Linked DNA regions of Homo sapiens: region 2 is linked to region 1. The links come from fine-mapping of genetic effects on gene expression. A gene starts in region 1. The other region holds a variant in brackets. All regions are shown on one strand. Distances are between the middles of the regions.

Evidence for each region. PIP is the estimated chance that this variant, and not a neighbour inherited with it, causes the effect. A credible set is the group of variants that fine-mapping cannot tell apart.
Region 2: its variant is the best candidate, but not a certain one, in a credible set for the expression of SLC47A2 in prostate (GTEx, PIP 0.67).

Annotation. Positions count from the first base shown.
Region 1 is chr17:19,712,459-19,720,781 of GRCh38, forward strand. It overlaps SLC47A2 (solute carrier family 47 member 2), which reads right to left and starts at 4,126. Exons shown (of 17, transcript NM_001099646.3): 1 at 3,975-4,126; 2 at 2,658-2,759; 3 at 2,263-2,331; 4 at 1,367-1,515; 5 at 245-287. The coding sequence starts at 4,097. It overlaps LOC124903948 (a long non-coding RNA gene), which reads left to right and starts at 1,888. Exons shown (of 2, transcript XR_007065659.1): 1 at 1,888-2,777; 2 at 4,916-8,323. RefSeq lists enhancers at 3,604-4,453, 4,454-5,301.
Region 2 is chr17:19,579,025-19,587,347 of GRCh38, forward strand. SLC47A1 (solute carrier family 47 member 1) reads left to right here. Exons shown (of 17, transcript NM_018242.3): 17 at 1-10. It also overlaps the pseudogene SLC47A1P1. Among named protein-coding and RNA genes, the nearest start is that of SNORA59B, 26 kb to the left of the region's middle. The variant G/A (reference allele first, on the strand shown) is at 3,842.

The DNA of each region.
Region 1 (8,323 bases):
ATTTTCTCTGCCTCATGCTTTTCGTATTTTCTCCAATAAACATTTTCAAATCAGAAAAACATGTTATACTATTTTTTTTAAATTCAATTTGCACCAACTGCAACGGGAACTTTTGTCAGTCACCCTCATGGCCCAGCAGGAAGTCACAGCAGGATAGGGATCTTCCGCAGCAGATAGAGTGGGAAAGCAAAAAGCCAGAATTTAGGGGAATGTGATTCCACGCTCAGCAAACAGGGGCACCTACCGGAAGTCCTGGAATGAAAATCATTACATAGTCCTGGGTCAACCTGCAAGAGAGGGAGAAGCTCCGGAGCTGACCAGGCTGTGGCCCGGGGAGGCAGGGCCCTCTCCCCTGTGTCCTCCAGGACTGGGTGCTCGGCCGCTGTCCCAGGGTCTCAGCCAGGACTGTGAAACCTCAGCATCAGGGGCTGCTGCTTCCAGATGGTAAGCAGGTGCCAGGAGGGGCAGCCGAAACACCCAAACACCCAGGCCTCAGGATGAGGGAACTTAAATTCAGAGTAACGTGGTTCGTAAGAAAAAAAGGTTATATCTTAAAAAGGAATAACCAAATGAAATGTACATAATATAAATGAACAAGGCATCCCTATGAGAGGGATTTATTATAAAATAAATTTAATAATAAACTATAGGCCGGGTGCGATGGCTCATGCCTGTAATCCCAGCACTTTGGGAGGCTGAGGCAGGTGGATCACGAGGTCAGGAGATCAAGACCATCCTGGCTAACATGGTGAAACCCCGTTTCTACTAAAAATACAAAAATTAGCCTGGTGTGGTGGCACGTGCCTGTAGTCCCAGCTACTCAGGAGGCTGAAGCAGGAGAATCACTTGAACCTGGGAGGCAGAGGTTGCAGTGAGCCAAGATTGCACCACTGCACTCCAGCCTGGGCGACAGAGCGAGACTCTGTCTCAAGTAATAATAATAATAATAATAATAATCATCATCATCATCATCATCTATAATTCATCAAAAAGTGGTTGTCATCTTTCTCCTTTTCGGAATATGGGAAAATGCACACACTTCATTTCTTCGAAAGCATCTGTAAAGCTCCAACTGTGTCCGGGCACACAAATGCAAATAAAATGCAAATCCCAAATTGTTTCTTGCCTTGCCTTCTAAATTAAAACTGGGCGTTTGTCCGCCTCTGTCCCTGCTGGTCACTGCTGGAGCCGCAGCCATGGGGAGAATCCCCAAACCAAAGCCTGGAAGGTACCCACAGGCACCGTGCACTGTGAGCACTCGTGGCCTAGAGAAGCATGGGGTGTGAGGGCTGGGCATCTTCAGGGTTTCCCTCGGCGGCCCGGGTTTCCCAGCAAGCCCCACCTCCCCAGCCGGAGCCCAGCGCACCTGGACACGTCCGGGTCCTGCCGGAAGAGCAGCAGGATGTGCTGGGTGTTGAGGAAGAGCGCCCAGCAAGGGAGGCAGCAGAGGAGCAGGACCAGCGCGCCCCGCTGCAGGATCACGCCCACGTGCTTCTTGTTGGGGCTGCCGAAGCTCTGCAAAACAGCCCGCCCCGCGTCAGCCGTTTCCACTGCCCGGGACATTCCTAAATCCCGCGCGGGGAGCGGGCTGTCAGCGGCGCCAGCGGTGTGTGGCGGACCCGGCGGCCTCTGGTGACCACAGCCTGGCGCCCGCAGCCTGTAATGGCACAGCGGCCTTCCTGAGCCTGGGCCTACCACTGTCTCCACTGTTCTTCCAAAGCTCCAAGGAGGACGAAGGCACATGGGGCTTCATCACATGTCAGCGGCAGGTTAAGTGGAGCCAGGACAAAGCCCAGGTCCACCGTGAAGCTAAAACCCCCAGGGAGAGGTGAGGCCTTGCCGCTTTGTGACCCCATGGCCACCTGGGCAGCCCCTGCTGGACTGCAGGCCCCTGCAAGCAGGGAGGTTCCTTCTGTGTCCCCTTGGCCTTCGACACATGCCTGCATGTAGGCAGCCGAACTTAGGATTGAGGCTGGGGAACCGGTTGTCTTTCTCTACTTGGTGACCTCCTCTGGGGGCAAGAGATCAGAGAACTGTCTCCACCATCTCCACCCCTTTCTCCTGGCCCAGACTCTTTCAAAGGGGAGGGTCTGTTTCCCTGACAGCCTGTGGTCCTTGGAGGTAGGGCAGGGGCAGCTGACCCCAGGGCCCATTGCTCCCAGATCACCTGGCTGCGCCCCTCCCACCTGCCATCTCCATGGCACCTGTGGAATTGGCTCTGCCCTTGCCTGGCTTCCTGCCCAGCTCCAGGAGGCCACCCACCTGAGACATCAAGGTGTCACATGCCGAAGACAAACCAACTCCTACAGAAACTCCGCAGACATTGACAAACTGGCGCCACACACAGGAGGAAACAAGAGCTTGTCAGGTGAGGCCTGAAGAGAGGCCCCTGCATCTGGGCTGAGCCAGGGTCAGGAAATGCTGCCCAGCAGGCAGCGGTGGCAGAGGCTCTGCTCAGCAGCCTCATGTGCTGTGTGCCCCAGGGCCAGACCGCCTCCATCTCCGGCCCTCAGGTTCCACCTGTGAAGGCAGCTGTCCAGCCACGTGGGCTGTGTCTTCCCATCCCTGACCAGCCACCCAAGACGGGCCCACCCGGGAACCCGGTGGAGAAGCCTGGGGAGAGAACGTCCCTGCTCTGGGCCAAGCTGGGTACTCACGGCCACCGCGAGGGTCACCGATGCCAGCTCCACCTTGCCCAGGTGCCCGCAGAACACAGTGCTCACGATGTAGATCATAAAAGTCAGCACCTGGAACAGGAACTGGAGGACAGCGGCCAGGTCAGACTCGGGGCCACAGGTGCCCACACAGCCGAGCCCTGCAAGACAGGCCTCTCCAGCTTTGAGGGCCCCGCACCAGTGCCCCGAGAGGTCACCTACGCCTGGGGAAGCCAGGGCTGGAGGTCGGATGACCTAGCCCAGCTCCCATTCTGCGTTCTGCAGCTGCAGTCACGCCTGGCCTCCACGTCCCTACCCAGAAGGGTCAGTGCCTGGCGCAGCGCAGTGCCTGGCGCCCTGAGCTTGACCCAAGTGTCTGATACTGCTATTGCAGTTCCTATTATAACAATAATTTGGTCAGGCCGCACACCCCCAAAAAAGGAGGGGAATTAAATACACCAAAATCTTAGTAATGGCTATTTCCAAGTACTAGGATTTGAGTTAAATTTCTTTCTTCTTTATATCTTTCATTTTTTTCTAAAAGTTTTACAGGAAGTGCAATTCCATTACTCCTTTTTGGTTTTGTTTTTTTTGTTTTTTTTTTTTTTTTTGAGACGGAGTTTCGCCCTTGTTGCCCAGGCTGGAGTGCAGTGGCGCGATCTCGGCTCACTGCAACCTACCCGTCCCGGGTTCAAGCGATTCTCTGCCTCTCTCTCCCAAGTAGCTGGAATTACAGGCGCCCGCCACCATGCCTGGTTAATTTTTGTATTTTTAGTAGAGTCGGGGGGTTCTCCATGTTGGCCGGGCTGGTCTCCAACTCCTGACCTCAGGTGATCCTCCCTGCTCGGCCTCCCAAAGTGCTGAGATAACAGGCGTGAGGCAGCACGCCCAGCCTATTCCTCTTCATGATCAGAAAAAATAAATGTATTTAAAACAATTTCCCCTTTGGAAATGAAATGGGTAGCCGGCCCCTTCTTCCCCCTGCGAAGGTGCTGCAGGCTTCATGCATCTCTGGGTCCCATTTGTCCTGGAGCCATCTTCCAACTCAGGCTTTTGTGGGTTTCCAGCTGAGGCACACCCACCCCTTCTGTGTGGGGGCTGCCTGCTGCTGAGCAAAGTCAGGCCCCACTGCCACTGGGGATTGTCCAGAGACAGCTTTCAGGAGCCATCCTGCTGTCCCCAGACTCTGGACCTGGCAGTCAACATGGGCAGTTTCTGGGGAAAATGTGAGCACATTTCTGGATCCTGCCTGCAAGGCAGACACCCTCAGCCTCTCAGCTTCCTCCACTCCCTACCTGCCCCCCAGCTCCTCCTCCTTACCAGGGGTCCAGAAAGGGCAAAGAGAGTCCACATCTCAGTCCCAAAGCCTCTGGGAACCAGCCTGCTGAGGGCAGGGCAGCAGCCCCCATGGTCCAGGGCCACTGTGTCCTGGAGGCTGTCCATTCCTGGCCGGGGCACTGGCTACCCTGCACGCCTGAGCGCCTGCACGGCCAGCTTTGTCCAGCGAGCCACCCCCTGCCTGGGCAGCCCGTGTCGGTACAGCCTGGCTGATGAGTAAGGGGCAGGAGGAGGGGCTACCATGGCAACTTGTGGGATGAGCCCTGCCTCCTAGGGCACTGAGTCCCTGCTGCCAAGCCTACTGCCTCAGCCACTAGGGAGGACAGGTTCCTGGGAGTCACCCAGACCGCTGCCTGTTGTGTCTGGTCTCCCAGAGGGATTGGCAGTAAGGCCTCAGCAGGAGAAGGTCCAGGGCTGCCTGCAGTGGCTGTGGGAGGTGTGCTGAGGCCAGGACAGGGCAGCCTGGCTGGGGCAGCTGAGCCACTGGGCGTCCTGTACCCGGGCGTGATGGTGCCCACAGTGACTCCCGTTTTTCAGAAGAATTGGTGGCCTGCCCGAAGTCACAGAGCAGGTGGTGGCAGAGCCTGAACAGCCCTCAGCCCTGCTTTTCCCTGGGAGGGGTGGCTTCCCAAGAGACAGGGGCCTGGCAAACCCCATGGCAGTGCGGTCCCTAGCCTTTCATGCTGGAGGGGCCTGGGCCTGGGCCTGGGGATAGGGATGGGAGCTAGGACACCTCGGCGGAGTCCCAAGCCCCCCACTGCCCGTCACCCCTTTCAGCAGCATATCTGAGAGCCAGGGGTGGCAGTGCTTGGGAAAGCAGCTCACTATGCACGCCAGTCACTGTGCCCAGCAAGGCTGTGACTCGACGTCCCACAGGGTCCTCTGTCACCTTCCCAAATTGCCCTCTCTGCTTTTCCTTGCAGGGATGGCCTGTGACTCCCCCCTCAACCTGCCTCAAGACCAGCAGGGCAGTGGGAACCAAGAGAGGCATCTAAGGATTGCACCGGTCACCTAGCCCAGTCCTGGATCAAGCTTTTGGGTGTGGTTCAGCCCAGGAGAAGGAGGAGTGAGCGAGGGGGGCAGGAAGACAGCAGGCAGGCTGGCCAGTGGCTGTGGGAGGGCTGAAGACATCCCAAAGGCCCCACTTGGTTCCCATGTCCACCCCTGCAGCGGAGGAGTGGCCGGCAGGATTCCGAGATGCAGCCCCCAGAGCCGCGAGGAGGAAGGAGCAGACCCTGAAGGAGAGGAGGCAGGACAAATACAAAAAAAAAAAAAGGGTTTGCTACACCCATGGGCGGCCCCAAACACAGGCACAGCCCCACCCCAGTCAACACGCAGCCTTCTTTTTTGACACAGAATTCTGAAACGCTCCACTGGATCCTCCCAGGATCACCTGGGAGGTCACATTCCTGCCCTTGTTCTGATGGTTCTTATCACAGCACTCTCCAACCTGTGCACCAAATAGTACCTTTACCACCTGCCTAGAGGAAAGAAGACATTTTATCACCATCGTGATTGTGATGATGACACCAAACAGGAGGAAGTACAGGTGAAAGCTACAGCCCTGCAGGCCAGGCTATTGCTAGTATGTCTGACTTCCCTCCTCCAACACCTTCTCCACGTCCTTCTCACCTTTGGCCAGTTCTCATGGTCAGCCTACCTCTTCCAAAAGGGCAGCCGCAAATCCTCCTGCATCCAGGGGACCTGGGCCTGGGGTCTCTGTTATGTGAAACCAGCTGCTTCCAGCTGACAGGGCCTCTGGGGAGAGCAGTCACCTGCTGGCCTTGGCCTGTCACCTCCTGTCGCAGCATTGCAGTGAGCCCTGCAGCCAGAAGCAATACTTCTTGGGAGCCCATGGCGATGGGGGTGTTCAGGGAGCCCACACGTGGAGGTATAGGCAGAAGAATCCATCTCACTCCAGGTCACTTTTAATGAGGACAGCTGGTTCCCGTGCCCCCACCAAGCTGGAAGGTGTTCAGTGCAGACGCCCCGCCATCAGCTCGGTGACATCAGGCTTTATCCAGAGCTGACCAGTGTTCAGCACTCAGCTGCACAGGACAAAGGTCGGGTCATCTTCCCGAGGGCCAGTCCTAGGCCGAGCATCTCCAAAATCCCTTCTCAGGAACATTCCCAGGATTTTTGTGATAGAAGCCAATGCATTCCTACATTTTCTTCGGGAAGACACTCTCCTCCTACACTCCTCTCAGAATTTCAATCCCCAGACCCCAGTGGGTTTGACCCTGGGGAGGAGCAAGGGCGATTACTGACTCCACTGCCATGCATTGGCCGCCCCAGGCAAAGGTGGTGCAGGCAGAGTGGGGGGTGGGGGGAAGCCACCTCCTCCAGGTGAGGGGTGTCAGAGCTCCGTGAGTCCTCCATAGTCTCCTGGCAATGCCTTCAGGCCCTCCTTTTGTGGTGGTAACTGCAGACTCAGCAGCACCGCCCTGCAGCCACCTGCAGACTCAGCTCCGAGTTGGGTTTTCCAGGATTCTGCCCCGGAACCTGAGATACTTTGAGCGGAGCTGCACATGGCCCCTGTGCGCCATCCTGTGGCTGGGGCGGGGGGAGCCTCCGAGACTTCAGCCTCTGCCCTCTCTCCAGAGCTTCCAATGCTGTCAGGAGCAACATGCCACCCTTCAGTCCTGCATCTTCTGTGGTCTCAGATACTGCACACAACAGACGGATCAGCAGCTCACTCTCAGGAACAGGGCTGCCAATCCCCTAGAATATACAAGCAAGTCCGGGCGATGCTGGACCCTTTCCCTTCTCAGCTGATCACTTGTTTCCAAGGCCCTTATTTCCTGGGGCACATGGCCTATGACATTCTCCCGATGCCAGTTGCCGTGTCAGCCACGTTCTCTGATGGAAACAGTAGAAACGAACTGGGATCATGTCAGCAGATGGAAGAAGGGAGGAAGGGGGAGAGGAGATCATTATTGCCAGGTGATACAGAAGAGGGCTGAGCCGCCAGCCTTGAGAAGGGAGACTCTGGACTCTCAGGGTGATTCAGGGAAAGGTGACTCAGCCCAAACACCTTCAGTCCCAGAGGCAAATTCCTGGAAGACTGGGGCAAGAGCCAACCTGAACAAGAATGGAGGTGGAAAGGGTGGGAAGGAGGGAAGCTGTGAGCTACCTGAAGTGGGGCAGGGGGCCCCCCAGAGGATGGGATGCTATGAAAGTGAAAACATGGCTACACACCCTGCCTCATTTATCTATTACCAGCCCCCCCAAAATTGGTGTCTTAAAACCATTATCATCTGTGTCATGAGTCTGTGCGGCGAGTTGGGTGGTCCTTCTGCCTCCCCTAGTCTAGCTGTGTCTGCAGTCACCGGGGACTGGCCCAGGCTGGCCAGTCTTCCAGGCTCATGTCCAGGCCGCGGTGGGTGCCTGCTATCAGCTGAGACTGTCAGTCGGAGCATCTCCACCTCCCCTCATAGGACCTCCTCATGCACCACGGGCATCTCAGCATAAAGTGACCTCCCCGTGCACCACAGGCATCTCAGCATGGAGCGACCTCCCAACGCACCATGGACATCTCAGCATAGAGTGACCTCCCCACGCACCATGGGCATCTCAGCATGGAGCGATCTCCCCGCGCACCACAGGCATCTCAGTATAGAGTGACCTCCCCACGCACCACGGGCATCTCAGCATAGAGTGACCTCCCCATGCACCACGGGTATCTCAGCATGGAGCGACCTCCCCGTGCACCACGGGCATCTCAGCATGGAGTGACCTCCCCACGCACCACGGGCATCTCAGCATGGAGTGACCTCCCCGTGCACCACGGGCATCTCAGCATGGAGCTGGAACAGAAGACAGGACATTCGATGGTGCAAGTGGAAGCTGCATACAGGTCAAGAGCCAGCCTGGGAGGTCCCCATGCCCCTCTGCCTCATCCTGTTGACCACAGCTAATCATGGACTCGCCCAAATTTCACAGGAGAGGGAACAGCCTCCACTTCTAGGTGGGAGTGGCCGAGAGGCCATGCCTTTAACCAGCACTCTCCTCTTCCTCCTTTCTATTCCTCCCTCTCCATTCTCTCTTCTGCTCTCTCTTGTGCCACCCGCTGTCCACACTTGGCCCCGAGCAAGGGCAAGCAGATAAAGACCCCTGAGGTCAGTGATGAGAGGACTCACGCATATCGAGGACCTCTTTGGGGAAGGAGGACCCAAAGCTACAAAATCCTAGGAATGGCAGGAGGCACGGGGAGAGGCAAGGGAGTGGAGAGTCCTGGCAAGCCCCCAGCACACACCCTGGGATTAGGGAGGCTCCCAGCCAGCAAGAGGAAGCTTGACCCAGGGGGAGCTGCTCCCCCAGCCCCAGCAGCC
Region 2 (8,323 bases), 130 kb before region 1:
TAAATAGAGATTTTGCCTCTACATTTTTGACTTAGTGCTAGGATGGATATAATGCTCTAGGCATGGCCTTTTCCTGAAATAACAAAATCAGAAAAGTTACCTACTTTGAGTAAAAAACACCCAACTGCTGATTTTGGTTGGGGCCACCTTAAGGTATCTCTACCCTCAGTGCCTTGTTCTTGGGGCCACGAGGCCCATTCTCCAGGAAGGCAGGTAAAGGCTTGCACTGTGGCCCTCGGGGTTGGGCCTGGGGGCAGGGGGCAGACACCACAGAGGCCCCTCCCCAGCTCCTCGTCAGGAACCCTCGAACCCTGTCTCCATTCCCCTCGCACAGGACTCCCTGCCCTTCCCCTTGCCAGGTAGGGCAGGGACCCCCTGGGGATAAGAGGAGGTTCTTTCAACCACCAGCCACAAATAGCCGCGGCCAGGAGGCCACCCCGGGCCGCCAGGAGCAGGGAGGCTGGGGTCCCTGCGAGGCAGGACCCCTCCTCTCCCGGAAACACTGAACCCGCAGCAAGCCCAGGCCAGAAGCATGCCAGAAAGCGCCAGCCCTGTGCTCCGCGGGAGGATGGAATCACCAGCTCAGTCCTGTCTGCCCACCCTCTAGGCATTTTGCTCTTCCAACCTGACCTACAAACTCTCCTGATAAAAACCCGTGTCATCCAAAAGCACACGAGGGGTCCTCTCACGCAGGGACCCCTTCCCCGAGCCCCCTTCATAAGCCCCCAAGGGCCCTCCCGGTGCCCTCCCCCAGAGTTCTGCGGGCGGCGACCATTGCCCTGGGCGTCTGGAGCGGGTCCGGGACGGGGAGGGGCGGGGCTGGGTGGGATCGGGTCGCCCCCCTCACCCCCACACCGCGCTGCGGTCCCGCGCCCGCGCCGCCGCCAGCCGCTCCCAGCCTCCGCATGGAGGCCCCTGCGGCCGCCGACGCCCCGGTCCCCGCCGAGCTCCCCGCCGCCGCCAAGGACCGGCCCCCATAGCGGCTCCGGGCCCTCGGATGGCGTGACGGCTTGTGGGGCCTGCGGGGTGCGCTGCCCCCGGACCTGCGGGGGGAGGCGGCTGAGCTGGCGGCGCTCGCGGGCCCAGTGGTGAGTGCGGCGTCCTCACGCCCAGCCCGACGCCTCCGGAGCGGCCGCCGCGCAGGGGTGGGCGCGGGCTTCCAGGAGGGAGGGCGGCTGTGAACGCGCCTTGCTTTCCGCGCCTCCGCAGTTTCTTGCGCAGTTGATGATCTTTATAATCAGCCTCGTCAGCTCCATCTTCTGTGGACATCTGGGCAAGGTCGAGCCGGACGCTGTCACGCTCGCCGTCACGGTGGGTGCCTGATTTCGCCCCTGTAGGAGCCGACGGGCGGCCAAGGGTTAGGATTTGAGCGGTGTCCCCAGGCGCTGTGGCTCACGACTGTAATCCCAGCGCTTTGGGAGGCCCAGGTGGGAGGATCGCTTGAGCTCAGGAGTTCGAGACCAGCCTGGGCAGCATAGCAAGACCCCCGTCTCTACTAAAAATACAAAAATTATCCCAGCGTGGTGGCACCGCCTATGGTCCCAGCTACTCGGGAGACTGAAGCAGGAGGATCGCTTAAGCCCAGCAGATCGAGGCTGCAGTGAGCTGAGACCGCACCACTGCACCCCGGCCTTGGCAACAGAGCAAGACCCTGTCTCAAAAACAAACACACAGGGCGGGGCGCGGTGGCTAACGCCTGTAATCCCAGCCAGCACTTTGGGAGGCCGAGGTAGGCGGATCACCTGAGGTCAGGAGTTTGAGACCAGCCTGGCCAACATGGGAAAACGCCGTCTCTACTAAAAATACAAAAATTAGCCGGGTGTGGTGGCACGGGCCTGTAATCCCAGCTACTTGGGAGGCTGAGGCACGAGAACCGCTTGAACCCAGGGGCCTGAGGTTGCAGTGAGCCGGAATTGTGCCACTGCACTCCCGCCTGGGTAACAGAAGGAGACTCCGTCTCAAAAAAAAAAAAAAAAAAAAAAGGAAAGAAAAAAAAATCAGTTTGAATTGTATCATGTCTTATGCATCTTCCTTTACAGGTCTGGGACTGACCTGTGGCTTACCATTACCTGATTAGATTTGGAAGGAGCTCGTGTCAATACTTAGAAAAGTGTAAAACTGAAATAACTGCACTTTTTTCTATTATGAAATTAAATCAGGAGACTTTTAGGTAATTTAGGTTGTTTGCCATTAATTGGATTACACAGTACATTCAGCTCCCACCCTTTCACCCTTGTGGAAAAGCCTCTCCCATGGATTGAAATCACACCTCCTGGGACGTCTGTTCCCTGGCTTTTGTTAGTGATGTGGAAAGTTGTTTCTTCCTGCATTTCATCCAGGCTTTCAGAGAAAGTGGAAAACACTTCTGCTGGTGATGGTAGGCGGCTTTCCCTAGTCTCAGAAAATGTCCCCTGTGTCCCCGTGAGATGGGTACACACCCTAAGAACACGGAGGGCCACCGGAGCTTCTCATTCAGCTACATGGGAGCCAAGACCTTGCCAGGTGGAATCAGTCACACATTTTATTTACAGGTCTGTTATTTGGTGAACGTATTGGATTAAGGGACATTTTTGCTTCCTTTGAAAGTTTAGACTGGGACTCTAGGAAGAGGCATGAAGGCAGAGGAGATTCGTATACATGGCTGCTCCAGTGTCCCCACCGGGAAAGACGAGCTTGGCCTCTACCTTAACAGGATGATGATCTAAGACTGGCAGGGAAATTTCCTGCTGTGTCCCCGCAGGGCCCAGGATTGGGGTCCACCTTTTCTGATTACTGCTTGCCAACCATCACTGCCCCCAGGGTGCTCCCTGGGCTCACTTCTGGGCCATCGGTCACTCCTCCATGTGGATGACATCTAATGGCCAGTCAGCCACCTTGTTCAAGAGGACCTCAGCATCTGGGTGTCCACTCTTCTCCTCTCCCCGCCTCTGCTGTCATCCCTGGGGCTGTGGGCTCGACTCTGTGACCCACAGTCACAGCTTTCATTTTTGAAAGGGATCAAGACCATGTAATTGGCCGAAAATGTCCACACAGGTACAATGACCAGATAGCCACCTACTCTTAACCTAGGATTGGGAAACAGGGGACCTCACCTGGAGACTTCGGGTCTTGTTTTAAGAGCAGGAGGATGCGCTCGGTGTTGACCAAGTCGGCCCAGCAGGGAAAGCAGCACAGCATAAGGATGAGGACCCCTCTCTGAAGTATGATCCCCACGCGCTTGAGGTTCTTGCCTCCAAAGGACTTGAGAAAACAAATGCACTGCTAACAGCATATGCCAGGCAGGCCGAGGCTGGGGGCCTGCGCCACAAGCAACCCCTCCCAGGGGCGCCTGCCCGGCGCCCAGGCAGACCGGTTTCCCATCATCTGCTCCCGCCCTCCCCACCAACAGCTGACAGCATTGGGGGAGCTTCTGAGCCAGGGACAACCAGTGAGCTAGCTGGCCCCTGTGGCATTTTACACGTGTCCTGGGACAATGTGTCCCTGCTCCCAGGAGCTGGGACTGTTAACATGGAGGGTAGAGGTAGCAGAAACTGAAGCTTAAAAGAGAGTTTTCAACATGGGAGGCAGACAGATGCTGCAGGAGAACATGTGCCATGGTAGAAGGTGAAGTTGTGGGGGACTCTGAGGGCCAGGGATACCCGGGGAGGGTGCAGTGGAAGAAAAGCACACACTGTAGGCTGAGAAGGGCAGCTAGCAGGGTGGCAAGAACTTCGGGGGGCGGGAGGTCATGGAGGCCAAGGCAGTGCTCTAGAAAGCAGGGATGGCCAAGTGGATTAAGGACGGCCAAGCGCTCACTTGAGGATTTTGTCATAGGAGGCCGGGAAGAGGCCAGGCCCAGTGG[G/A]CTGGGCAGGAATAAACAAGGCATCAATAGGGGCTGAGTCGGGAGTGCAGGCCAGGCCCGAGTGCAAAGAACACCTTCAAGAAGCTTGGCTTGAAGGAGGCCAGCAGGGAAGGAGGGGTGGTGGTAAGGGAGGGCGATTTTAGGGTATGGGAGACCAGACTGGGAGGAACAAAGGACAAAATGCCCTTGAGCAGGTGGCCCCAGAGGACAGCACTAGTCAAGCTGACTCTGCTGTTTTGTTTTTTTGTGTTTTTTTTGTTTTTGTTTTTTCCTGAGATGAAGTCTTGCTCTATTGCCTAGGCTGGAGTGCAGTGGTGAGATCTCAGCTCACTGCAACCTCCGCCTCCCAGATTCAAGCAATTCTCCCACCTCAACCTCCTGAGTAGCTGGGATTACAGGCGCCCACCACCGTGTCTGGCTAATTTTTGTATTTTTAGTAGAGACGGGGTTTTACCATGTTGGCCAAAATTGTCTTGACAACTTAGCTGACCTACCACTGCCCTTGGCCAAAGGCGGAAGAGCGCAGAGCCCCTTATCAGGAACGGGCTACAGAAATTCCTGTGGTTAGGCATGGCGTGGTGGCTCACACCTGTAATCCCAGCACTTTGGGAGGCTGAGGCGGGCGGATCACCTGAAGTCAGGAGTTCAAGACTAACCTGACCAACATGGCGAAACCCCGTCTCTACTAAAAACACAAAAATTAGCCAGGCATGGTGGTGGGTGCCTGTAATCCCAACTACTTGGGAGGCTGAGGCAGGAGATCTCTTGAAACCGGGAGGCGGAGGTTGCAGTGAGATCTTCTAGGAAGATAATAGACTCATTTTTAAGATAACTGTGAAAACAAAATTTTTTACCTTTGGAAAAATGTTCATAGTATAAAAGGACTAATAAAAATGTGTTTTTTTTTTTTAAATAAAGGAACATTTATTTATAGTCCACCTTGTTCCACGAAGAATTTGAACCAGTTTACACAAATACTTCCCTAAAAGAAGGATAAATAAATAGCTGTTAGAATTGGGTCAAAGAAACATGGGTGGAAAAGCTGGGAGCCAGGGGTGAGTTGGCATGGGATAGGATGGAAACTGTGCTGAGGTTTTATGGAAGCCTTGATTCAGCGGAAGGGCGGGCCTGGGTACTGAGCCTCAGCCACATTCCCCTTGACCTTCAGAAGGCAGACACCATGACATGGAGCGTGGTGTTCTGGGCTGCTTGTCGCCAGAGACAGAGTAGCAATTTTTGTTCTATCTTTTATAAAGTTGTGTGTTGTAAGCGAGAGGTCTAACGTCAGAGCTCAGTTTGATAAAAGCTTGTGACAGCAGAAGCCACGGGGCCCAAGGCCATGGTCCTGCTTTACATGGGTAGACTGAGCCCCGGGGGAGAGTAACACATTTCTCATTTCTCTGTGTTGGGAATATTCAATATCTTCTTTTCTTTTATTTCTTTTTTTTTTTTTTTTTTGAGACAGGATCTTGCCCTGTCACCCAGGCTGGAGTGCAGTGGTGCAATCATAGCTCACTGCAGCCTCAAACCCCTGGGCTCAAGTGATCCTCCCACCTCAGCCTTCTAAGTAGCTAGAACCACAGTTGTGTGCCACCAAGTCCAGCAAAAAAAATTTTTTTTTTTGAGACAGAGTCTCACTCTGTTACCCAGGCTGGAGTGCAGTGACTCACTGCAACCTCCATCTCCTGGGTTCAAACGATTCTCCTGCCTCAGCCTCCTGAGTAGCTGGGACTACAGGCATGTGCCACCGCACCCAGCTAATTTTTGTATTTTTAGTAGAGACAGGGTTTCACCGTATTGGCCAGGCTGGTCTCGAAATCCTGACCTCAGGTGATCCACCTGCCTCAGCCTCCCAGAGTGCTGGGATTACAGGCGTGAGCCACCACACTCGGCCAATGTCCAACTAATTTTTAAAATTTTTGTAAAGATGGGGTCTGGTCATGTTGCCCAGGCTTCAGTATCCTTCCAGCTATTTGAAGCTATCTGTGATTGTTTCCTGCAGTCACCCTGCAGTGTGGTGGAACACAGGAGCCTATTCCTTCTGCCTAACTGTAACTTTGTATCCTTTAACACATCTCTCCCTATCCCCCCCATCCCCCTACACTCCTATGTGACATATTTTTTTTTTTTGAGACAGAGTCTTGCTCTGTTGCCCAGGCTAGAGTGCAGGGGCGCAGTCTTGGCTCACTGCAACCTCTGCCTCCCAGGTTCAAACAATTCTTGTGCCTCAGCTTCCTGAGTAGTTGGGACTACAGGTGCATACCACCACTCCTGGCTAATTTTTGTATTTTCTAGAGATGGGGTTTTGCCATGTTGTCCGGGCTGCTCTTGAACTCCTGGCCTCAAGTGATCTGCCCACCTCGGCCTCCCAAAGTGCTGGGATTACAGGCATGAGCCGCCGTGCCCAGCTCTGTGTGACTTTTTAAAACACAAAACTTCATAAATTAGCATGCTTTACCTTTCTGTTTTCCTGGCAGTCCGAGGGGTTTGGGAGCTTTAGTCATGCCCCTCTGCCCTGGCTGGAATTCAGTGTTGCTGTGTGGGTAAATCCTCATTGTGCCACAGCCCTCCTGGGGCACGGTTAGATGGAGACCCTGGTCTCATGGGGTCCCGCTGGGCAGTACATGTATGGCCTGTCAGTTATGTGGTGGGGCTGGAGTTTGTGTTTATCAAGCCAGAGTCGTGGTCAGTGAAGAAGCTAACTCACCTGGGGCTGCCATCACCAGTAACCGTGAGACCCAGGACGCAAATGAGGGTCTTTCAGCCCCTCGTCCTGAATGCCTCCTGCACCCTACCTGCAGGCTACTCTATGTGCCCTTAATTGTCAGGGACTGGGTGAGGTCTGGTCAAGAGGGTGACACAACTAGTCCTGTTCCTCACTGGAGGACTAAAGCTTGGGATCTGGAGCCAGACTTCCCAGACTTAGGTCACCATCTGAGTAACTTGGGCAAGGGACATACACTTTGTGTAACTCAGGTTACCCAAAACAAAAAATGAGACGAGTTGTCCTAGCACTATGCACATGAGGGGCTTAGGACAGTGCCTGGCACATAGTATGTGCTCAATAAAAGTTTGCTGTTATTATTACTAAATGCACATCCTACTGGCAGATCGGGGCATCACCTTTAGATGTTAACCACAACTTAACTTTATTTATTTTTTATTTTTTTTGAGACAGGGTCTCACTCTGTCACCCAGGCTAGAGTGCAATGGTATGATCTTGGCTTACTGCAACCTCCACCTCCGGGGTTCAAGTGATTCTCCTGCCGCAGCCTCCCGAGTAACTGGGATTACAGGCGCCCGCCACCATGCCCGGCCAATTTTGTATTTTTAGTAGACATGGGGTTTCACCATGTTGGTCAGGCTGGTCTCAAACTCCTGGCCACAAGTGATCTACCTGCCTCGGCCTCCCAAAGTGCTGGGATTACAGACATGAGCCACCGCACCTGGCCCACAATTTAACCTTAAATATAGAAATTATAATGTGCTATACTGTTTAAGAAAAACTAGGTTTAATATTTCCCCAGTTGACACAAGGTGGTTATCATCCTTTAGTTAGAAGGTACACTTTTGTTCAGTAATCAATAAGGATAGATGTAGACACCCATTTGATCTAAAATACAGCATACATCTGTTGAGTTGCCCTTTAGAGACAAGCTTGTTGAGGTTCCTCCATGAAGAGGGAGCTGTCTGATGCGACCCTGAACTGGCGTCGTCCCCTGAAGGTCTGCCACACCAGGTCTGTGGTTCTCTTGCAGGTGGTGAACGTTACTGGGATTGCAGTTGGCACTGGCTTAGCCTCAGCTTATGACACCCTCATGTCTCAGGTGAGGACCACCCTCCCCCACATACCGTTTTTTGACAGTTACCTTTCATAATAGAGACTTTCTAGGACCATCCACCCTATGGGTTTTGTTGCATTTTATTTGTCAAATACAGATGGTCCCTGACTTAGATTTTTAAACTTTGTGATGGTACAACAGTGACACGCGTTCAGTAGCTGCACTTCAAGCCCCTTACAACCATTCTGCTTTCCACTTTCAGTACCGTCCAGTAGATTCCATGAGATAGTCAACACTGTATCACAAATAGGCTTTATCTAAGATTATTTTACTCAGCTGTGGGCTAATGTAAGTGTTCTGAGCACGTTTAAAGTGGGCCAGGCTAAACTGTGATGTTTGGTAGGTTAGATGCATTCAATGCATTTTCAACTCAAGATATTTCTAATTTACAGTTGTGAGGTAGCTAGGTAGCCCATTGTAAGTCATGGAGCATCTTTTTAAAAAAATTATATTTATTTTTGCAGGCGAGGTCTCCCTATGTTGCCTAGGCTGGGCTTGAACTCCCGGGCTCAAGAGATCCTTCTGCCTCAGCCTCCCATGTAGCTGGGACTACTGGAACAAACATCTGTACATAGCTGCTAATGACTGGAAACACAACCAGGGTCAGCCAGGCGCAGTGGCTCACGCCTGTAACCCCAGC